Regions from separate parts of the Homo sapiens genome. Here region 2 is linked to region 1. The links come from fine-mapping of genetic effects on gene expression. Tissue or cell type: whole blood. Region 1 holds a variant in brackets; the other region holds the start of a gene. All regions are shown on one strand. Distances are between the middles of the regions. Region 1 overlaps TMEM131 (transmembrane protein 131). Region 2 holds the start of ZAP70 (zeta chain of T cell receptor associated protein kinase 70).

Region 1 (10,626 bases):
ACTGCATGCTGTGTTGCTGCTGGTAAGCTCCCACAGGTGGCCCCCAGAGCCCTCCCCCAGGCTGCCCGAGTCCCTGCTGTCTTCCCTCTGTGCCCCTGCTGTCTTCCCTCTGTGCCCCGCTTCTCTCCTTTTCTGTCTTCCTCTCACCATACAACTTCCTCAGACTGAAGGCTGGTAAAGGTTGGCCAGTGTTAGAACATGCAGTGGTGAGTTGGACACAGACTGTTCCTGAGAATGGTGACTGTGACCAGAAGGAAGGCAGCACAGTGGGTGCCATGTGAATCTGCGGTCAGCCTGACCTGGGGCCTCTGAGCCAGCACTGCCCAGCCAGGTTCCTCAAGTATAATGGAGTAACCCAACATATCCCAAAGTGTTAGCCAGGTACCTGACAGAGTCAGTATTCAATAAATGGTAGCAATTACTGCTTTTTATGAGGCCTTTTAGGATAGTGGCAGAGGGAAAACGCTTACTGGATGAATCCAAACAGGCTTTCAAGTTGTTTTCGATCAAGGACCCTCCATGATTGCCATGGGAACACACAGAACTCCATTAGACTGCAGGAAGTTCCAGCAATGAGAAGGCAAACCCCGTCTTAACCTGTCAGCTCCACAGAGTAAGGCAAGGATAAGGTGGTTTACTTTGGTGTGAGAAAATCCTAATAAATACACCTTGTGTGTAAAAAAAACCACAAAACAAGGCTTTTGAAAAAAGCATCATTTATTTCAAAGTACAACACAAAGTTGTATTTTTAAGAAATACACATTCAATCTTGTATCTCAAGACTTGGCTATGTGCATTTCAGTTCATCTTTAAAATAAGTTCAGGTATACAAATGTTACATACCTCAAGTACAAACAGCACAGAAAATGCATATGGTCTCAACTGAATGTTTTTACATTCATTCACCGTTCTTAAGTTGACTTACATTTCTGTAATCTGCTTTTAAACCAAGACAGCCTTACTTTAAAAAAATACTCTATTTTCAGCACAAAGTCCTCATACAGTTTTAAAATTAGATCTTGGCGCATAATATTGAGAAATTATTAAAAACCAAACTTGGTAATTTAACAAAATTGTCACATGCCAGGATTTCTGAATCAACTCAAATTATTTCCTTAGCTGTAATGTCAAATCTGTGTTCATACAGATAAATAAAGCATGGGGAAGACAGGTGGTGAAAACGCAGTAACGGGAAAGGTTCTCAGATGTACAGGTCTTATTAGAGTTTGTGGCTGAGTCCAGACTTTTCTCTAAAAGCACAACAGCAAATCTCATGTTATCATAATTGCAAGAAAGATCTGAAAGAAGCGAGTGGTCTGAGCCTGCCCTGCTTGGGTCTGTTTTGCAAAGAAGAGGAGGGTGGGGAGGGGAGCTGCAGTAAGAGCCTTAAAAAGATGTCTCAGAAACTGGCACATCATGATCTAGACGAGGGCCCACTATGTTTGTTTGTTTTTTGCTTAATTTAATTCTCGTGAGGAAAGTGCGAATTAGACCAAGGGTCCGAGCTTCTTCTTCCAATCGTGGGGCTCCATATCCGCCACGGGTTGTAGGTCTGTCCCAAGTCGTCAGCTGGACTGGAGGTGGAGGGAGCGTGAGGAGCAGGGGAGTTTTCTGTGCCCATGAGGCCGATGCTTGCCAGCGTGTTTGCTGGAGTGGTGAAGGGAAGGGCGCTGCTAAGGTTGCTGGACCAAATGGAGCTGCTGAATGGAGTGGTGGACCACAGGCCGCTGGTGTTACCGAGGACCGACTGCGACAAAACAGAAAGCGTCCAGCACTGAGCCCGGCAGGCAGAGGGTCAAGTGGGTAAGGGGGTAAGGCTACAGAAAAGATGAGGCTGGGGCACGCATTCCTCTTACTTTGTTTACTTTAGAACAAATGTTATATATATGTATTTGAGCAGATGTTTCTGATTTTTTTGAGACAGGGTCTTGCTCCATCACTCAGGCTGGAGTGCAGTGGTGTGATCATGCCTCACTGCAGCCTCAAACTCCTGGGCTCAAGTGATCTTCCCACCTCAGCCTCCCAAAGTGCTGGGATTACAGGCACTAGCCATCATGCCGGCTAGTTGTGATATTTTAAAAAAGACAGCTTGTGGACCAAATCCAGCTCTGCCTACTTTTGTAAAGAGAGTTGTATTGGAACACAGCTGCGCCCATCGGCCTGTGCACTGCAATGGCAGTGGTGAAGCATGGCCTTCAGAGCCTCAAATAGTTACTATCTGACTCTTTATAGAAAGTTTGCTGACTCCCACTTTGGGAGGCCGACGTGGGCGGATCACGAGGTCAGGAGATCGAGATCATCCTGGCTAACATGGTGAAACCCCGTCTCTACTAAAAATACAAAAAATTAGCCGGGTGTGGTGGTGGGCGCCTCTAGTCCCAGCTACTCAGGAGGCTGAGGCAGGAGAATGGCATGAACCCAGGAGGCGGAGCTTGCAGTGAGCCGAGATTGTGCCACTGCACTCCAGCCTGGGCTACAGAGCAAGACTCTGTCTCAAAAAAAAAAAAAAAAAGTTTGCTGACTTCTCTTTTAAAGAATGGTTAAGGTGGTTTTAAAACATAAGGCTGAATAATTACACATGAAGACAACCTTTGGAATCTGTAAAGTTGAAATATCTGTTATAAAACCTTGCATGTTTAGTTTCTCTGAGAACAAAGAGGCAAACACAGTGGGGTCATATTTTTCTGTCATAATTTTGTGGAAGCCAAAACCACTAATTATTTTCCTTGGCAAGAATACTCTTTTCAGCATGGTCTTTGCAGAAGACTTTAGCCAAGAAGCAAACAAATGCACTCTTGAAAATCTAACCTAAGAGACAGGTGCTTCTCAGCAACAAAGTAAATGCAGTATCTAGCTTGCTCCTGGGTGGCCAGTGGCTGCATTGCACAGATGCCGAAGGCTTCCCTCAACCATCTGAACCTGCCATAGGCCTATGGTCACCCTTGTGGTCCATTTACAGGTTGGGAAGAGGCAGAAAATGCCCTTGAGCTATTAGGAGGGACTCCAGAGACCAACCCCATAGCTGTTCAGTTGTTCTTCCTAAAACTTCCTGATTGTAATGGCTCTGAAGAACATCGATCAGTCATTTTGACAGAATATGAAGACAAAGCAATGGAGACAATAAAAGTACTAACCCACCCCTCTGATGCTGCTGTTTGTTGTTTATAACTATGTCAGTGCCATCCATGTCACAGCAATGGCAGATGGCGAGTGGGTGGGCCAGGTCCAGGCCCCAGCCCCAGCCCCAAGTACTCACTGTGGCTGTGTGGGTCGGGGAGCCGGAACTGGCTGGCCAGGAAGGACTGGGATCTGTCGCTGGCGACTCCCAAAGGTATGAAGGGCCACTATTAAACTCGTTCCAGCTCCTCTGTGAGGCCTGATTGCACGATCGAGATAATCCGAGTTTGCTGAAAACTTCTGGAAATAAAGCAACAGTCATCAAGTCCATATTTGGTTTTGCCATGATCACTATAGCATATGGGGCTTCACTCAATGGCATACCTCCAACCACTGCTCCTGGAGCCACCACACCCACTTCACCAGCCCACCACAGCCCAGAGGAAGTAGGGGCAGGAGTGTCCTCCAGAACTCAAACGCATAGTGCACGAGCTGATATGCCACCAATGACATCCAAATGCAAACTTTCCCCACTCTCACATGATAGCTAATGGGAAGCTTCCATGGTGACCTCTAGTTCTGGACAGCAAGAAGAGGACCCCTGGCACACTCAGGGGTCCCATTTCAGACCAGAACCCTTCTGTGAAGCCCTTCAATACCCGCCATGGAACTCACACCAACTGGTGTGCGCACACCGTGTCGAGCCTGGTCCACTGCCCCTCTGGGCTGCTGGTGTGGATGAGGGAGGAAGAGGGGAGGGGACCCTTCCCAGGGAGCTTCCTGCGGGGCCTCTTCCACAGTGCTGCTGTGCTGTGTTCTCCAGCACACAAAACCACACCTCCTCTCCCTTCCTCTGTCCACAGGCTTATTAGTTACACATCTAGTGTTAAACACTCACCACCAGTTAGATTAAAAGAGTTTCCAAAGGCGGAGAACGAATTGAGGGGAGTGAAGTCAGGGCTGCTTGGGTTGCTGACGGGACTCCACAAACCCGAGCTAAATGTTACAAGAGGAAAACGCAACACACAAAAATGTATGGTGGTTAGTGCAAACGGATCCATAGTGCACAGCTTCACAAACAGGAGACACTGCTTCAACTGGGGGTACTCAAATATTAAAAACAGACAAAAGGAAGAGCTGAACAATGGCTGCTTACCACAAGGGTTGAGTCGGAGGGAGCCCCAGAGCTCCGGATGCCCTATCACTAGCTCACAGCCAGGTTCAAAGCAAGTGTTTTGCAGAGAAACAGAC[A/AT]TTTTTTCCTTCTGTTTGCTTTTTGGTACTGGAAGATTTATTTAAAAACTATTTCAAATCTAGAACTCATTTCCTATTAGTGCAAAGTAGGTAAATTGGGGCTCTATTGTTGCTTATCTGGAAAAGTCAACCAAGGTGACTGCTGCAGGCCACCACACCCCCTGCATGATAAACAAGCCTGCTCAAGAAAGAGGCGTGGCCAGTGATTTACTATAAATTGGCTAGTATTTGCTCCAGATTTCCCCCCTCCCAAGTCACTTTCGCTCTTCTATTTTTAATGATCAGATCACATCTTACCACAGACCAGGAGATGGAGGAGAGTGAGAACAGGTGTAACGTGTGTCTGCCTGGCTGAGACAGGCATGGGTGCCCCCTTTCTCTATCTGGACCCCCTGGGGAAGGCACCGCAGCCGGCTTTCTGCTTCCACCCAGCAGACATGATTTCTTAGAGGCACTTGACCACTTCTGACAAATGCCTCCTTGTAAATTAGGGGAAAAATGCCCTGAAACCCATTTATGGATAAAAAGGTGCTAACCCGACTTGAGAAGCCTTCCGTCTTTCTAGCGGTTAGTGGTGGTCTACCGTACCTGTCTGAGCCATCGCTGTCAACAGGAGCGTGTGAAATGCCAAGGCTGCTGGAGAAACCTGTTTTGTTTGAAGAAACTTTAGCAAAGCCATTCCCACCTGTAACAATGGACGTTCAATCAATGGAAGGCACATTAGGACAGAGGTCATTCCACCAGGCCTGGCGCCTGGCGTGGCAGGTCTCTGAAGCAAAGGCACTGACCTGGGCTCTTGTCGTAGCCAGCCGTGACTGCAGCAAAAGTGGGGTTGCCGTTCTTGCCCGGGAGCGAGGCTGCCTTTGTCAACTTGTGTTTGCTTCCATTTGGCTGTTTTATTTTAGGGTCACTTGAAAAAGAAGCAAAGAGAGAACTCATTCCTCATCAGCAGTGCCCTGTCTCGGGGAGGTGTGGGGCTGGCAGGACTGAGCCCTGAGTGGGCTTCTCTGCAGCGGGGCAGCTCACAGAGCATCGCTCAGCCTCATGTCACATGCTCTGGGGCCTCAGACTGCTTAATCAGACAGAGATAGAGGGCTTTCTGGAGAAAGGTAAGAAAACAAAAGATCACTATGAAAGAGACCAGGGCAGGGATCACAATTTAGGGACTGGCAGAGGCTTCGATCACACTTTTGTGAAGAATGCTAGAGAGCCACTCGGCAGGAAATGCAGAGGGCAGCCACCGACACCGGAAAGGGCGGGGCCTCAGGGAGTCTCCTTCCCTGCCAGGACACGGCGAGGTGCTCCTGTGGCAAGGCCCAGAAGCGGGGTGGCTCCCCCAGCCTCAGTGGTTACTGCCTCTTGGGCAACGGCGGGGAGGACCTGACCCTAGGCTGGCCGGTGACGCGATGCACAGAAACCCACGCCACGGCGAGGCACACGGTGAGAGTGCCATCCGTGACTGTCAGGCTTGCGGTACACTGTGGCAGGCGGACACGAGTGAGGCTCCGTGCCTCGGAGAACAGCATGCTTCCTGCATCCTGTCTGTGTGGTCAGGAGGCTGCCCTCCCGGGTGCACACATCCCCTACTGCAGCACCTCACCCAGCACAACGGTCTTGGACCAGGTCCTGCCCTTCTAAGTCCTAAGCCAAATTGTCCAAAGGCCAAAATTAGTGTCACATAAACCCATACTCCCAACTCACAGGAATCCCCTTTAGGTCTTCATGTAAGGCTTAGTAAATGTTCATTGGCTCACTGAGAATATCACTCTAGTGAGTTAAATGGTGCATTTCTCGGTCCACAGGTGGTAAGAATGAATGGATTAGAATGGGAACCGGGTTACTGTTGGAGCTGGGCACAGCAGCAGGAAGCGGGGGTGGACCCCAGGTAAAAGGGTCCACACAAGCTGGCAGCCATCAGAAGTAACACCAGACAGTGGCCTGTGGCCGCTAAGTGTTTCCATTTAAAGGGTGTGACATCGGGTTTTAGGCACATTTCAAGCTGAGAACCGGAAAGGAAGCAGCAGGCCTACCTGCTGGAGCTGCTGTTGACGATGCTGCTGTAGCTGCCCCGGGCCACAAAGGGGCAGGGGGCAGCTGGGGGAGACGGGGAAGCAGGTGTCGGTGAGGTCTGGCGTTGTTTTAAGAAAATGTCTGCGTTGAGGGTTTGCAGAGAAAGTTTATAAAGACTATCAGTAGCTGGAAATTAAAAACAAACGGGCTCGTTAGTGTGGTGTTTTGATTAGCGCTCTTCCAAATCACTTTGAATGTTCTCTAAGACTATGCATAACTCAAGCCCTTCTACAAAGAAAACAAACGAAAGCTCTTAGATGTGTTCTGTTTAACAGGTTTTAAAGAGAAAGCAGCCACATCTCTCTGCACTCGGGGATTTGAGGGGAGCAAGAGCGTGCCCGGTCCCTGCTGTGTTGTGTGGCGGACAGTCAATGTCTTCACTTCTCCCACCTCAGGTAGGGGAGGAGGGTCTTCCACATCCTCCAGGGGTGGACAGCTGAGGCCGCTGCCTGGGGACCTGGAAAATCCTTGTGCCTACACGCAGGTTTACAGCTGTGGGAGGTGCAGTGTTCCGGGCTGAATCCCCAAGTTCAGTAAAGCCTCTCCATTGGCGTGACTGGGATGTGCAGCTCTGATCCCTATTAAGCTCCTAGTATATTCCTGTGCCCTTTAAAGTAATGTCTATACAGCTGTTTTAAAAATCTAAAACAGGCTGGGCACAGTGGCTCGGACCTGTAACCTCAGCACTTTGGGAGGCTGAGGTGGGAGGCTTGAGCCAGGAGTTTGAGGCTGCAGTGAGCTATAATCACACCATTGCACTCCAGCCTGACCCCATCTCTGAAATTAAAACAAAAAATTTCAGTCATAAAATAACATTCTCTACTCAGTAAACGGAAATATGTATACCTTTTATCAGAAAAATGTATCATTTTGCACATCTATTGTGTGCAACTTGGTGCTGCTGTAGCTACTGCAAGAGGAAGAAGGTGGGGGAGAGCTTGGACCTGTGAATTCCCATCACCACAGGGCACGATCCCCAGCCCAGGCCTGGCCAGCTCGCTACCTGGCTGGCCCCTCCTGCCTTGTGAGATTTCCGCGTACCCTGAGTACCCCCGGCTCCACTTCTCCCGTCCCCTCACTGCCACATTGCAGCCGCTCTGCCTGCTGCCTCTTGCTTCCCTGGTCACACCCTGTAGCACAAGCTGCTTCTCCCCTACCCCCAGGGCTCAGGGCTCAAGGTTTCCCATGTCTTGGCTAGGTCAAGCCTCCAGCATGGCCCTGCCGAGCAAAGCAGCCTTCCCTTGGAAGCCCGTGCTCTCCACTCCGCCATCCTCAGGGCTGCCTGCTACCTTCTCTCTCACCTTCCCCAGTGCTGCTGGTACTGGTGCCAGACTCACGGTCCTGTCTCCCACCCGCCCACTCTCACCCCTTGATGACATGGGCCCCTCCTCGCTGGTTCTGTGGATCTGCTGACCTGATGCCCACACTCAGGACGTGTCTCACACCGCTCTCCCATACGAGCCCTGCTCGAATCTTTGTCCCCATCAAGCTCCTCTGAGGCCTCCCATCTGACACCACGTCTACACTGTCGGCTTGCTATTTGTACAACTGTCCTGACCCTTCCCTAGCCACTTCCTCTGGCCTCGCTCCGCCCCTGCAGTGACTCGTCCCCTCAGGCAGTGCCCACACTTGGAGCAGGCTGTGCTCCGTTTTGTGTGCGCTCGATCCTCCCGAGGTGCCTGTCCTGGGGAAAGGTGCGGGCAGCTCCTGTGGGTGGAATGTGTTTCACAGGGCCCAGAACTACAGATGCTCCCAAGACAGTGATGATGAAATGAAACAGGAAAAGCAAAGGGAAGTTAGCAAAAGCCCCTACTGAACAGTGCTTGAGGTAGGAGTGAAGGGGAGACTCTGAACAGTACACGAGCTGCAATTAGAGAACGTTTTGATTCAAATATTATTAAAATTTTCCTTTGTGGCTTCTGATTTGCTTTTCCTTTTAATAACCCTTTGTATTTTTTGCCTTTTTAAATCATGAAATTATTCAAGGAGCATTTTCTCTGCAACTCATGTGGTACAGATGGTATAGGGCACCATGCTAAGGGGTGCTACTTGGGATGGAGAGATCTTTACACAGAGGCTGCACAACTCCCCCAGCGGCTACTGCCACATGCTGGCTGCACAGTCTTGGGTGGGACCAACGCTTTCACCCCAAGGAACTGCACTAAGCTTGGCACTGCCAACAGCGCTCGCAGAACTTCAGGTCTAAGCAAGACGAAACACCAAGGGAGGCGAAGGGATAAAAGGGGATGAGAAAGCTGGGGCAGAGCAGGAAGGTAAAAGTGATGGAGAGCATGTGGGACCGACTCTTCTGGGTTTCCTCCACCCATATTCTCTATCGAGTGGAGCTCTGCTGGAACATTTTAGTAACGCTGGCAGTGAGGGCAGAGAGGTCACAGGGCTTGGAACCAGTGTAAGGGACTGCTTGGCTAGAAAAACACAAAAGGACTGCACAGACGTGGGCTGAGGAGACAAGCTCTGCATCTCTTCCCCCAGTGCCCACCGTGGAGCTCTGCCCTGAGGCGCCATGCTCAGATGCACCAGCTGGCCTCTGTGGAAGAGCCAGGCAGGAAACTGAGGCATGCGGCACTGGGCCCTTCACAGTTCCTCCTCCAGAGGGCTGGCCTGCCATTTCCCACATTCCTGCCCCGAGGAGTGGCACCAAAATCTCCTGTCTGGGGTTGGGTCCTGTCATCCTTTCCCCTCCACACAGAAGGAGTGATGTCAACATGTGGCTCAGGTGCCACCAGGTGGGGATGCTGCCAGCCAGTTTGTGGCTGTGTCTGGCTGTCACCTGCTCTCCCGGCAGCATGGTTCTGCATGCTTGTGTCATTACGTCACCAACACGGCTCATGTCACCTCACTGGGCCTCAGAACACCCCTGTGAAACTGGCTCCAGGGGCTGTGTTCTGTTGCTGAAAGTGGCATCTGTTTAATGGGGAACTGCCTAAATCGTGGAGTGTTAAGCCAAGAGCCAATGGCCAGCAGAAACCTCAGGGGGCGCTAGGAAGCAGAAGCATCCCACCTGGACACACGGACCACCCACGGTCTTCTTCAAGATTTGCTGAGTGAAGGATTTAGGATTGTATCCCACCCCTGGCAAAAAGTAGTACTAAAAGGTGCCAGAAAGTCTCATGGCAAATAGGGCTACAGGATGTATCTCAGAGAGCATCTCTTTCCAGGATGTATCTACACATTCCGGCGAGAGCGTGGACGCCCTACCCGAGCCTCCAAGGCTCTCTGCCCTCATTCAGCCCAGTGAGCCTGCCCTTCGTCCAACTCCTTTCACCTTCAATGACCCGACTGTTGCTCAAACCTGACTGCATCTCTGGTCTTCCTGACTTGCCCTCTGGTACACTCCAACACAGTGGTGAGTGCGGACCAATCAGTCCTAAAGCCAGGACCTCTCTTGATCTCAAATCCCTGCTGTCAGCTGCTCCCTTTTCTGGTCTCTGTTGCCCCCTATTTCAGGTCAAGTGTCTGTAGGGTGAGGATTTCTATTTTGGTTGACTGTGCCTACTGTCTTGATTTACTGCAGGCCAAACTGGAGAAACAAGGTCAAGGTAGTGAGAAAAATAATGAAACCTTTGTGTAGGTTGCTCATGTAAAAAGATGTGGGTAAAGTTGAGAGGATGGAATTCTTACAAAAACAATTACACTATAAATGAGGAACTCATCAGGTAAAGGATAGCTAAGTCAATACTTGTATAAGGCAAACAATTCTTTAGAAGATTAACCACTCCAAACAGACCATTCCATTTTGCACATTGGGCAGTGGTGTGCTAGTATACCAGCTCCCTGAAAAAAAAAAAGCCCTGATGTGAATTGTTGAATGAGTCCCCTGATGTAAATAATCTTACCAGGACTGATTTCAACCTACGGCAGTTTAGCCACTGATTAGGCTAGTTAACAATGGGCTCTTAGCTGGCAAAGCACTGTCAATGGGTATTTTAAAGCAACATGCCCCTGAAGAGTTCCATGCCCAGAGTGGGGTGGATTGTGGGTAAGTGGAGCCCTGTGGTTTCTAAACTACTATACTTACAGCTGCCAGGTTTGTGAACTGGAACGGAATCCCACTCCGGTGGAGGAGAGTCTTTTTCACCCTCTGAGCTACTGGTGTTGCCTAATTCTTGACTATTCGGGAGGAATTTTGCTAGGGCAGGTGGTCTGTTATCCACTAACTTACTTGTA
Region 2 (10,626 bases), 48 kb before region 1:
CTTTTCCATTTCTCAGATTGAAGCCAGCGGGGAGGTGGGGAGAGTGGGGCCCTGGTCACCCCGGAGGACCTGCCAGCTGTCCAAAGGTCTCTGAGTGCTTCGCCAGGGCAGGTGCCCCAGGAGAGGAATGCCAGCAACTGGGGTGTGGCCTGTGCCACCTGACATTCGCCTGCCCGGCCCTCACAACGCTGGGAGTTTCCCAGGCATGGTGCTGGGGAGCTGGGTCCAGCTGGGCTTCAATACTTGTCCTGCCTGGACCTTCTCAGAGCTTTGGCTTCCTCTTCTTGGCAATGAGGCTGATAATTTACCCTCTTTACAGAGCCATTGGGTGGTCCGTTCAGCAGCAAACATTTATTGGACACCTGCCGGGTGCCAGGCCCTGTGCTGGGCTGGATGTGGGGTGGCTGTAGGGCAGCAGGTGGCTGGGGTCCTCTGCGCTTGGAAGGAGATGCAGCTGCCCCAGCCTGGGCATACAGCAGGCACAGCAAGCATACCAGATTTTCCTTGAATTCTCAACAGGTTGCACATGCACCCTTGTCCCATCCTCATGGCAACTTCTTGGGACCCCAGCCCTGAGAGGCAGCCCACCCCTCTGCTGGCCTCCTACCTCTACCCTGGGCTTGCATTTGAGGAACAAGCCCTATCAGCGCCTATAGCCTCTGCCAACAGTCCCCGCATGGCCTGTGGGCCCCTGGGAGCTGCCCTGAACTAGCATTTCCATTTCCCTTTCTTCATCAAAGAGGTGGCTGCCTTTGCGCTGTCAGTTTGCCTTCACGCTAAGGCCTTGCAGCTTTAGCTCAGGGTTGGTTCAGCCTGCTTGTCCCTAGCTGGATGACGGCAGTCACCCTGATAGCACAGGGGATTTCAGGGTGGAGCCCTGTGGAAGCTCCAAGCTCCCTTTGAGCCAGGAGGTCCCAGGCTCCCCACTTGCTAGCTGTGGAATTTCAAGCCTAAGTTTCCTCTTGGTCTCAGTTTCTAGATCTGTAAAATGAGGCTAATCTACTACTCGCTGGGGCTGTTGTGAGCGTTAAATGTACCTTAGCTGGGGCCAGCACGCAGTCGTGCTTGATAGAAAGAAATAGATGCATTTAAGCTGTTATGAATATTCTGCAAGACTTCAGCGCTTTGCCCACCCAGCATCCCTTCTCCTCCTTCCAGCCACTCCTTCCTTCCAGAGTGTGCTGTGGGTGGGGCATGTGACCTGGTCCTAAGCCACGTCCCCATGCCATCCGCTGGCGTCAGGGATTGGCTGGGGGATGGACAGGTGATCTACTCAGCCAATGAGCTGTGCTGGGGGTTTTTCCGGTAATATCGAGAAATAGATTCTTGCTCCTTGAATAGGATTTGAAGCTGAGTGACTTTCTTGGACCATAGGGAGAAACCTTGTCTGAGAATGAAGCCAACAACCTTGGGGTCATCAGTTGAGCCCAGAGCAAGCTGTTCCTGAAGCGCATATGTGGGATTTTTTCACCCATCCATGCAATATTTATTGAGTACTATTGTGCTAGGTACCACTCCAGTTGCTGGGGTCGCAGCTGGGAACAAGATAGTTCCTACCTCACAGATGACACAGTCCTGCTTAAGACCTTTGCTGGGAATGCTCTTCCCCCAATATCTCCGTATCTCCGTGGCTCTCTCCTACATCTCCTTCAAGTCTTTTTTTTTTTTTTTTTTTTTTTTTTTTTTTTTTTGTGAGACGGAGTCTCACTCTGTCACCCAGGCTGGAGTGCAGTGGCGCAATTTCAGCTCACTGCAGGCTCCGTCTCCTGGGTTCACGCCATTCTCCTGCCTCAGCCTCCCGAGTAGCTGGGACTACAGGCGCCCGCCACCACGCCCGGCTAATTTTTTGTATTTTTAGTAGAGACGGAGTTTCACCGTTAGCCAGGATGGTCTCGATCTCCTGACCTTGTGATCTGCCTGCCTCAGCCTCCCAAAGTGCTGGGATTACAGGCGTGAGCCACCTTCAAGTCTTGATTCACAGGTTATCCCCTCCGAGGCATGCCCTGACTGGCTCAAAATTACATGCTCAAGACCTCGCCTACCCTTTCTGATTTATTTTACTCCTTAGCACCTGTAACCATGTGACATACTCTATGAAATATTTATCTATTTTGTTCATTCTCTGTCTCTCCCACTAGAATGTCAGCTCCATGAGGGAAGAGATTTTCATGTGCTGTTCACTGCGGATCCATAGAACAGAGTACCCGGAAAAGAGTCTGGCATAGAACGGGTGTTCAGTATTGAATAAATAAGTAGCCAGGGGTCTCAGGAGGTGGCAGTGCCATGGCAGTTTGAAGGCTTCCGAAGGAGCCATCCACTTGAGAAGCCCCCAGGGGAGAGCACAGCATGTGGCTGCTGTGGTCAAGCAATTCTTTTCTGACTTAAACCAGCTGGATTAATTTTTTTTATTTCAGGGCAGGGCGGTGGTCACTTTCAGCCTTCAGGGACGCCTGAGTTGTGCTTGGCAGCCTGCAATACTGGAGAGCTGCCCCTGGAGGGCGCAAGGGAATCCCGTTGCTGCACTCGGACGCGCAGTCACTAGACATGAGAGATGACGGTGGTGGTAGCAGTAATGGAGCATTTGCCTTTAGGCCTCTTTTAACTTTCACAACAGCCTACAAGACAGGTACCATTATCCCCGTTTCCTAAGGGAGGAAACCAAGGCGCAGAGAGGCTAAGTAACGTGCTCACGGTCCCTCAGGGTTAAGTGGCAGAACCAGAAAAGAACCAGAAGGAAAGGAGATACAAGTCACCATTTTTGGCCTGGCGCGGTGGCTCACGCCTGTAATCCCAGCACTTTGGGAGGCCGAGACGGGTGGATCACGAGGTCAGGAGATCGAGACCATCCTGGCTAACGGTGAAACTCCGTCTCTACTAAAAATACAAAAAATTAGCCGGGCGCGGTGGCGGGCGCCTGTGGTCCCAGCTGCTTGGGAGGCTGAGGGAGGAGAACGGCGTGAACCCGGGAGGCGGAGCTTGCAGTGAGCCGAGATAGCGCCACTGCAGTCCGGCCTGTGTGAAAGAGCGAGACTCCGTCTCAAAAAAAAAAAAAAAAAAAGTCACCATTTTTCTGTACACCCAGAGGGAATCCAGGAGGGGCCCTGGATGGACCTGTTTCCTTTGGGGCTCATTGCACTGGGGTGTATCTCCTCTCGGGCCTGCTGGAGCCTCCACCCTATCTCCCTGCTGCACGTCTCCCAGCAGTGGCTTGTGTTCTCTTAACTGTGCAGCCAGATTGGACCTGCTCAGCTCCAGGTGAAATGGACAGAAAGCCCATCCCTGCCCGGTCTGAGGATTGGGAAGCCTTCCTGGAGGAAAACACGCTTAATTGGAGACCTGAAAGAGGACTAGGAAATAGGCAGGTGAAGAGGTGTGGGCAAAGACCTGAGGATATGGGGGTGACTGATGAATTTCTTCGAGGCTCTTGGCATGAGTAGAGTGAATGTTTACCCCAACCCGATGAGGCAAAGGCACCGCAACTTTCCTAGCCCACATTTCCATCCGTTTGCCCTTTACTGTAAACATTCAAAAGATGCATCCACCTCCTTCCACTCTGGCAGAACAGAGGACCTTATCTGCATGCCAATCTCGGATTATCTGTAGCCCAATCTCAGAGCTGTCTGAGCACTGGGCTTTGTAGTTTCCAGACCAGCCTCTGGGACAGGAAGTGGGGGGCTCAAGGGTTGTAGGGCCAGTGCCTTGCAGAGGCTGGGAATCCCCTTCTCAGGACCTGAAGACCCTGGAAACTGGAAGCCCCCCACCCACACAGAGGCACCCTGTCCCATAGCTGGCTCAGCTTCCAGCTCCCTGGGGCGCTGGCCTCCTTCGGGGAGATATTTTACAACCAAAGTTTTCTTCTTTTATGTCCAGCAGCACGTGGGTGGGGTCAGGCTGCCTGGGCTGCAATCCCACCTGGCCACTTGGCATCTCTTAACCTCTCTGGGCTTTACTTACCTTATCTGGAAAATAGGTTGAATGGCTTATTAATTGTGATGTGCGTACAGCAATGTCTGGCACATAATCAGTGCGACTCTCATTATTGTAGTATGAATGTGATTTGATGCTGTAATTTCTCCTCTCTTCAGGGTGCCGGTGTCTTTTTCTCTCAATACTCCAAGAAATGAGCGTCCAGCATGGATGTGAAGGGATGCTTGCTGCACCTGGAGTTTCAAGATGCCGCTGGGGAAAAGGGAGGCTGCTAGCAAACACCATTTTGGAGGGGGCTGTATGAAGGAGAAAAGTAGCCTAGAGCCGGAACTCAGATTTTCTAAAGGGGATTCAGGCGGCCAGAGGATAGTAGAGGGCCAGAAAGGAGGTCCCCAAGGAGGCTTCGGGGTAGGGTGTGAGGGGATCCTCAGGCAGACTGGGGAGCTGAGCCTGTTGTAACCGAGCGAGTTACAGAGAAACGCCGCACTTTGAGACGAATTCAGGGGTCCTTTATTAGCTGGCGACTGAGAGACAGCTAGTGCTCAAAATTCTCTCAGCCCCAAAGAAGGGGCTTGATTTTCTTTTATACTTTGGTTTAGAAAGGACAGGTGGGGGTCTAAAACAATCTTACAGAAGTAAAGCAGGCAAAAAGTTAAAAGGATAAATGGTTACGGGAAAGCAAACAGTTCCAGGTGCAGGGGCTTAAAATCTATCACAAGGTGATAGACACGGGGCTTTGGGCGTTATCAACCGGACACAAACGCCGGGGCTCTGGGTGCTATTAACCGGGCGAATTCCTGGGAACTGCGGATATAGCTTGCCACAGTATCTTATCAGTTAATTGCATTCTTGGATGTGCTGGGAGTCAGCTTGCACAAATTAAGTCCTTGAGGAAGCGGGGTGGGTAAGGGGCTGCAAATGAAAGAGCCAAGATGGAGTCTGTCTGGCTCTCTTAGCTAAGGGAGAGTCAATTCAGGTTAAAACAAGGTAGGGTATCACAAGCCCACTTAACAAGGGCAGCAGGACCCCAAGAAGAAAAGCTTTAGGAGTCTCCACAGTGGGCCCAGGGCAGTTCCACACAGGTCTCTGAGGCCCCACAGACAGGAGAGCTGTGACGACTCCCTTAGTGCCCAAGAAAGCAAGGAGGTGGTGGGCAAGGGGCTCCCAGAGGCCTTGGGGCACTAGAGGGGAGATGGAGCCGAGGGAGTGGCTCTGCAGGCCCCTCTCTGAGAGAGTGCATGAGGTGTGGCCCCAGGCCCAAGGGTAGGGGGTGCACAGGGTGAGGGAAGGGAGGAGAGGAAGAGGAGGAGGAGGTGGTGGCCACAGCGGGATGGCACTCAGCCAGGTTCAGCTTCGTGGGAAAGGTCCCAGGTGGGCCGGGCTAGCACTGGGGATGCCCTGGCTCTGTGTCTCGGTTGGGTGGCTGACTCCTCCTGGAACGCATCCCTGACATCCTCCAGGCTGGCTTGGGGATACTCTGGGGACACACAGTGCCCAGGCTTCCGGCCTCCCAGCCCTGGCTCCCTGTGGACTCAGCTGCCCCCAACAAGCCTGCGAGCCACTGGAGAGCAAGGGCAGGCTGTCCTTGCCATCCAGATGCCTGGCACAGAAGGGGTTCTCACCTTCGGGGTATGGGCTGACTCAGTGGGTTTCTCCTCCCTCCAGCTCTAACCTGCCTGTGGAATAAACAAATCACTCCTCTGGGTTGTCTAGCTGGTGCAGGCCCCAGGGCGACGCCCCTTTGAGGGGAAAATGGGGGCATTCCAGTTTCCATGAGCCCTGGGACTCCCCTCCTTCCCACCACTGCTGCCTACCCTCCGGTTCCAGGTATGCAGGCTTCCTCCCTTCTGACGGTTCCTGCTGCTGGAGTCGTCCTTCCTGAAACCCTGCCTTTGCTTAGCCTCATTCCCATCTCTCAGTCCCATCCTGCAGCTGGGCAGGCAGTGCTGGGCCCCGGAAATGCCCTCTGCCTCCCTGGAGCACGTGGCCTGTGATTTTCCTTGAGCACAGCACTTTGTGACTTTGATGTAAACATCAAACACAGCCCCCTTTCCTGTCTTCGCATCCAGGAAATAGGTTAGTTTCAGACAAGCCTGCTTGCCGGAGCTCAGCAGACACCAGGCCTTCCGGGCAGGCCTGGCCCACCGTGGGCCTCAGAGCTGCTGCTGGGGCATTCAGGTAAGCGGCTGTCCTCGGGCCTTCTGCCTGTGTCCTGCCACCAGGGCCACCCCAGGGGGCTCTGGGAGACCTGGCAGAGGATGAACCCCCCCCATCCATGAGTGAGAAACCCTGGCGGGGTGTGACATCCTCCCCCGGGGTGTGTGCGGAGAGTGTGAGCGGCAGGGCCTCCCTCTCAGGCTGGGGGCTTGGGCTGCAGGGAAATCCAAACCGGCTTTGTAAGCCCCGATTCCTCACCCAGAACCGGCTCTCCATTGGCATTGGGACCAGAGACCCCGCAAGTGGCCTGTTTGCCTGGACATCCACCTGTACGTCCCCAGGTAAGTGGTGCCTGGGTGGAGTGGCACCTGGCCACCGTCTCCATGGTGGGCTGTGTCTGGAGGAGGAAGACAGAATATTAACTGGGAGTCAGGAGGTTGCTGGGAGGACCAGGAGAGCTGGAGGACTGGGCTGGGTGGTGACTGGCTGGAGATGGAGGCAGACGGGGCTTGTGGCCACGCTGAGGGAAGCAGCTCCCCCTCCAGAGGCTTGGCCGAGCGGGGCTGTTCAGGGGACACGGTGAGGCCTGCTCAGTCCCTGGGCTCCTGCTGGGCCCTGTTTGGCTGCATCCTTGGCTCTCGGAGGCAGAGAAACCTCCAGAGAAAGCGCATGTGCACTCTGTGAAGATGAGGGGGCTGCTCACCAGGGCCGTGAGCTCCATCAGCAGAATGCTGTGATTCCTGTGAGGAGTCCAGGGCAGGCTTGAGCCACTTGTAGGCGAGCTCAGGTTAGAGGAAGACCTGGAGAGAGAAAGAGCAAAACACCGAGTTCTCCTCAACTGCTGTGTGTTCTCGGCAAGTTGCTTGGCCTCTCTGACCTCAGTTTGTGCATCTGTTAAATGCACATGCAGATATGGGCACCTGGCAGGCGCCTGGTTCCTGACTGTTGGCGAGAGGCTGGGAAATGTGTCCCAGGTAGGAAGCATCCCCGACAGGAAGGAACAGGAGTTCATGAGGTGAGCAGCTCGAGATGATTCATTACTCTCGTCTTGGTTGGAACAGTAGGCAGACAGGAGGTGTTTAATAATGCCTTGCTGAGAGATCAGGGTCAGGGACTCCTAAGGTGCCACCTGTGAAGCTGCCTCCTGCTGAATCCAGAGCTTCCTTTTCCTCTTCACACCTGCCCTCCATCCTCAGCCCCACTGCCCTGGCAGTGTTGCGGGGGTGGTGTTGATGTGCACACTCTGGAGCCTGGGGGCCTGGCTTCACATTCTGGCTCTGCCACTCACCAGCTGTGTGACTGGACCAGTCACCGCATCTCTCTGTGCTTCCCTCCCAGGGCTCTCGGGAGGATAAAGAGAGTGACTGTATCCACACTGCCCGGCACATACAGGTGCTGCAGAAAGGTCTCACTAAAACCCTCATTATCCTCACTAGCTCTGGGTGGCCTCGGGCTCTGGACTCCACAGTTCCTGTATGCTCTCCGGGGCTGCAGCACCCAGACCACCCCGTGCTGACCACTCCCTGCCCCACCCCAAGGTACAGGGTTAAGGCAGCCATTCTCATCAGAGCCAATTTTACCTCCTCCCGTCTCCCTGGGACAGTTGATAGTGCCTGGAGACAGTTTGGGTTGTGACCCAGCGGGTGTTACTGGCATCCAGCATGTCCAGGACAGGAATCCTGTGAACAGCCTACAAGGCCCAGGACAGTCCCACCCTGTTCCATTGTCTCTATCAGCCCCTATCCTCCTGACTCACACCGCCTTTTCCCATCTCCCTTTTACAGTCACAGAGCCTGAGGCCCAGAGAGGGACCGCTGCTTGCTGAGGTCACACAGGCAGTGGAGGCCGGAGTTGGGGGCCTCACTGGAGGGGCGGTGGAAGGGCATTGTTCAATCAACAGACACTTGGAGAGTGTGCTGGGTTGGGGAATCTGACCCTGACCCCGCACCAGCCCAGCTCTCCAGGGTCTCCTAATAGACATTTGCTGGAGTGGTTAGTGCTGGCTGCTGCATTGGACAGACCTGAGTTCAAATCCTGGTGGCCCCTTGCAGGCTGCATGTTCTGAGAGTGACATTGACCTCTCCGAGCCTCAGTTTCTTTAGCTGAGGAGTGGGATAACAGTTCCCACCAAATGTAGTTGTGGTGAGAATTAGAATAAATGGCTAATGCTCGCAAAGGGTAGTGCAGTCCCCAGCACAGAGGCTGTTGTGATTGTCCTTACACACTTGACAAATATTTGTGGGGAGGAAGCAGGAGCTTCCATAGAAAACAAGACAGAGCCGTGGGCCCTGCCTCGGGGAGCTCAGCCTGGTGAGGGACTGAGGAGCAGAGACAGAGGCCATCAGGGCTGTGATGTGGGAGGATGGGGACCCTGGAAGCCTAGGGGAGGTGCCTGACCCAGGCTGGGGAGGGGGCAGGGCTCATGGAATGCTTCTGGGAGGATGGGACAACGGAGGAGGCCTGAAGCCGGAGGCCCAGTAGAAGGATGCAGCGCAGTTCTGGGCTGAGGGAATAGCCTGTGGCCAGGATCCTCAGGATGGGCCCCTCCTCTCCCGCCATCCTCCACCCAAGGAAGCCCCTGTGGCCCCTCACCCCTTCCCAGGTGTCAGGTTCCACCGGTGCTCAGAGGCATCCCCACCCATCCCAGTGGACTGCAGACCTTTGTAGGTACCTGGTATATTGAGCACCTCCTCTGTGCCATGCTGGTATAGGTAGGAGAACAAGACAAAGGCTCCACTCCCGTGGTGCTTACATTCTGGCAGGGACAAAGGTACTATGTCACCAATAGATACAATATCATCTTTTAGGTGGTGAAGAACAACAAAGCTGGGTCAGGGCTAGAGAGAGAAGGAGAGGCTATTTTGGAGAGGGAGGTCAGGGAAGGCCTCCTGGAGGAGGTGACTTAGGCAGAGACCTGAATAAAGTGGAAGGTGTTGGAGGAAGAGTCTCCAGGCAGAGGGAACAGACAGTACAAAGGCCCTGAGGCTGCACCATGCCTGGTTTGTCCGAGGGACCTGAACGAATAACATGAGGAGGCCCGTGTGGCTGGAGGGGAGTGAGTGGCGGGGGGTGGTGATGGGCATCATGAAGGGCCTTGGGGGCCACCCTGAGGACTTGCATTTTCACCCCGAGTGAGGTGGGAGCCTAGAGGGCTTCAAGCAGAGAAGAGGATGTGATGGCATGACGGGGGCCAGCAAGTCTCACCCCAGGGAGTCCCTGCAGCCCCAGTGCTGGACACCTTCACTGGCCCTGCTTTCCGGAGGAGGTCTGGCGAGCTTCACTCGCTGCTGAGGCTGCACTGTGACCATGTGGTGGGTCCACGATTCCATGATTTGAATCCAATCCCTGCAGTCAGGAAAGACATATGAAGGAGGAGCCTGCAGCCATGGCTAACTGCGGCTGTGTGGCTCATGGCGTCACCAAGCTGGCGTGTGCTGACGACCAGTGCCTATGCTGCCTCTGTTGGTGGGCACAGGCGGCCCGAGCACAGCTGGGGGATTAAGGAGCAGGGAACATGGCTTCAGAGGGACTTAGGGTCTCAGGTGAGGACTAGGGGTTCAGAGAGAGAGAGCCAGGAGCTGGAGTGGGAACAGGGTGGTGGGGGGGCAGTAGGAGGAGGTGGGGCGGTGAGGGGCTGGGGCCCTGCTCCTGCAGAGCCTTGGATGGGGACATGTCAAGCCTCTGGCTGGGGGGACATGCGGAGCCTCTGGCTGGGGAGACATGCGGAGCCTCTGGCTGGGGGGACATGCGGAGCCTCTGAGCCTCTGGCTGGGGTGACATGTGGAGCCTCTGGCTGGGGGGACACGAGGAGCCTCTGAGCCTCTGGCTGGGGGGACACGTGGAGCCTCTGGCTGGGGGGACATGTGGAGCTTGTGCTGCTCCTGCCCGCTCCCACCAGGTCCAGTGGCTTTGGTGTGATACCTCTGCTCTGACGATGGGCATGTAATGGGGGCTTCTGATGCCCAGGGAATGTTCTGTGAAACAGTAGACCTTCAAGGCTTTGCTGAATAGGTGTGGGAATTAAGTGACGCTGAAAGAGGTCCTTCCATGTGGTCTTCTCGGAGCCTTTAATGTGCTTTTCACAGCATTTGAAACTGTATTTGACCCCTTGACTCTTTTTTCCTTTGAAGCATGTTTGGGGAATCTGATCTCTCTGGAACAGCTGTAATCTAGCACTGCCTTTACCCAGGGAGGCTGGGTGAATGGTGGGATTCCAGGCAGGTCCTTCTGACCAGGCTCCAAGGCTTCCTCCCATCATCCTCCCAGGGCCTGGGCTGTGAGTGTGGGGCAGGTGCCCCGTGGCTGCTCTGCTGTGATCTCTGTGCTGTGATCCAGGGGCTGTAAGTTCTGGGAAGGCCAAACTAGGATCTCTGAACTGTGAGCTCAAGAGGAAGCTGACTGGGGTCAGCCTAGGGAGAACCATAGGCCAGGCTTGGGGAATGAACAGGCTCACTGGGGACTGAGGGACGCGGCTCCTAACCCAAGTCCTGTCCGTCGGGATGGCCCAGGCAGGTCGAGGGCTGGGGTGGGTCTCATGGTGGG

Evidence for each region. PIP is the estimated chance that this variant, and not a neighbour inherited with it, causes the effect.
Region 2: it holds the start of ZAP70, and the variant in region 1 is fine-mapped to the expression of ZAP70 in whole blood (TOPMed, PIP above 0.99).

Annotation. Positions count from the first base shown.
Region 1 is chr2:97,755,637-97,766,262 of GRCh38, forward strand. It overlaps TMEM131 (transmembrane protein 131), which reads right to left. Exons shown (of 41, transcript NM_015348.2): 35 at 10,478-10,626; 36 at 6,399-6,564; 37 at 5,157-5,278; 38 at 4,957-5,053; 39 at 4,016-4,113; 40 at 3,257-3,417; 41 at 700-1,747. The coding sequence ends at 1,463. It also overlaps a transcript of ZAP70 not described here. Among named protein-coding and RNA genes, the nearest start is that of ZAP70, 47 kb to the left of the region's middle. RefSeq lists enhancers at 5,649-5,868, 7,804-8,585. The variant A/AT (reference allele first, on the strand shown) is at 4,369.
Region 2 is chr2:97,707,570-97,718,195 of GRCh38, forward strand. ZAP70 (zeta chain of T cell receptor associated protein kinase 70) reads left to right here and starts at 6,007. Exons shown (of 14, transcript NM_001079.4): 1 at 6,007-6,105; 2 at 6,347-6,425. RefSeq lists enhancers at 1-168, 169-727, 5,815-6,788, 8,020-8,535, 8,536-9,050 and a silencer at 3,652-3,841.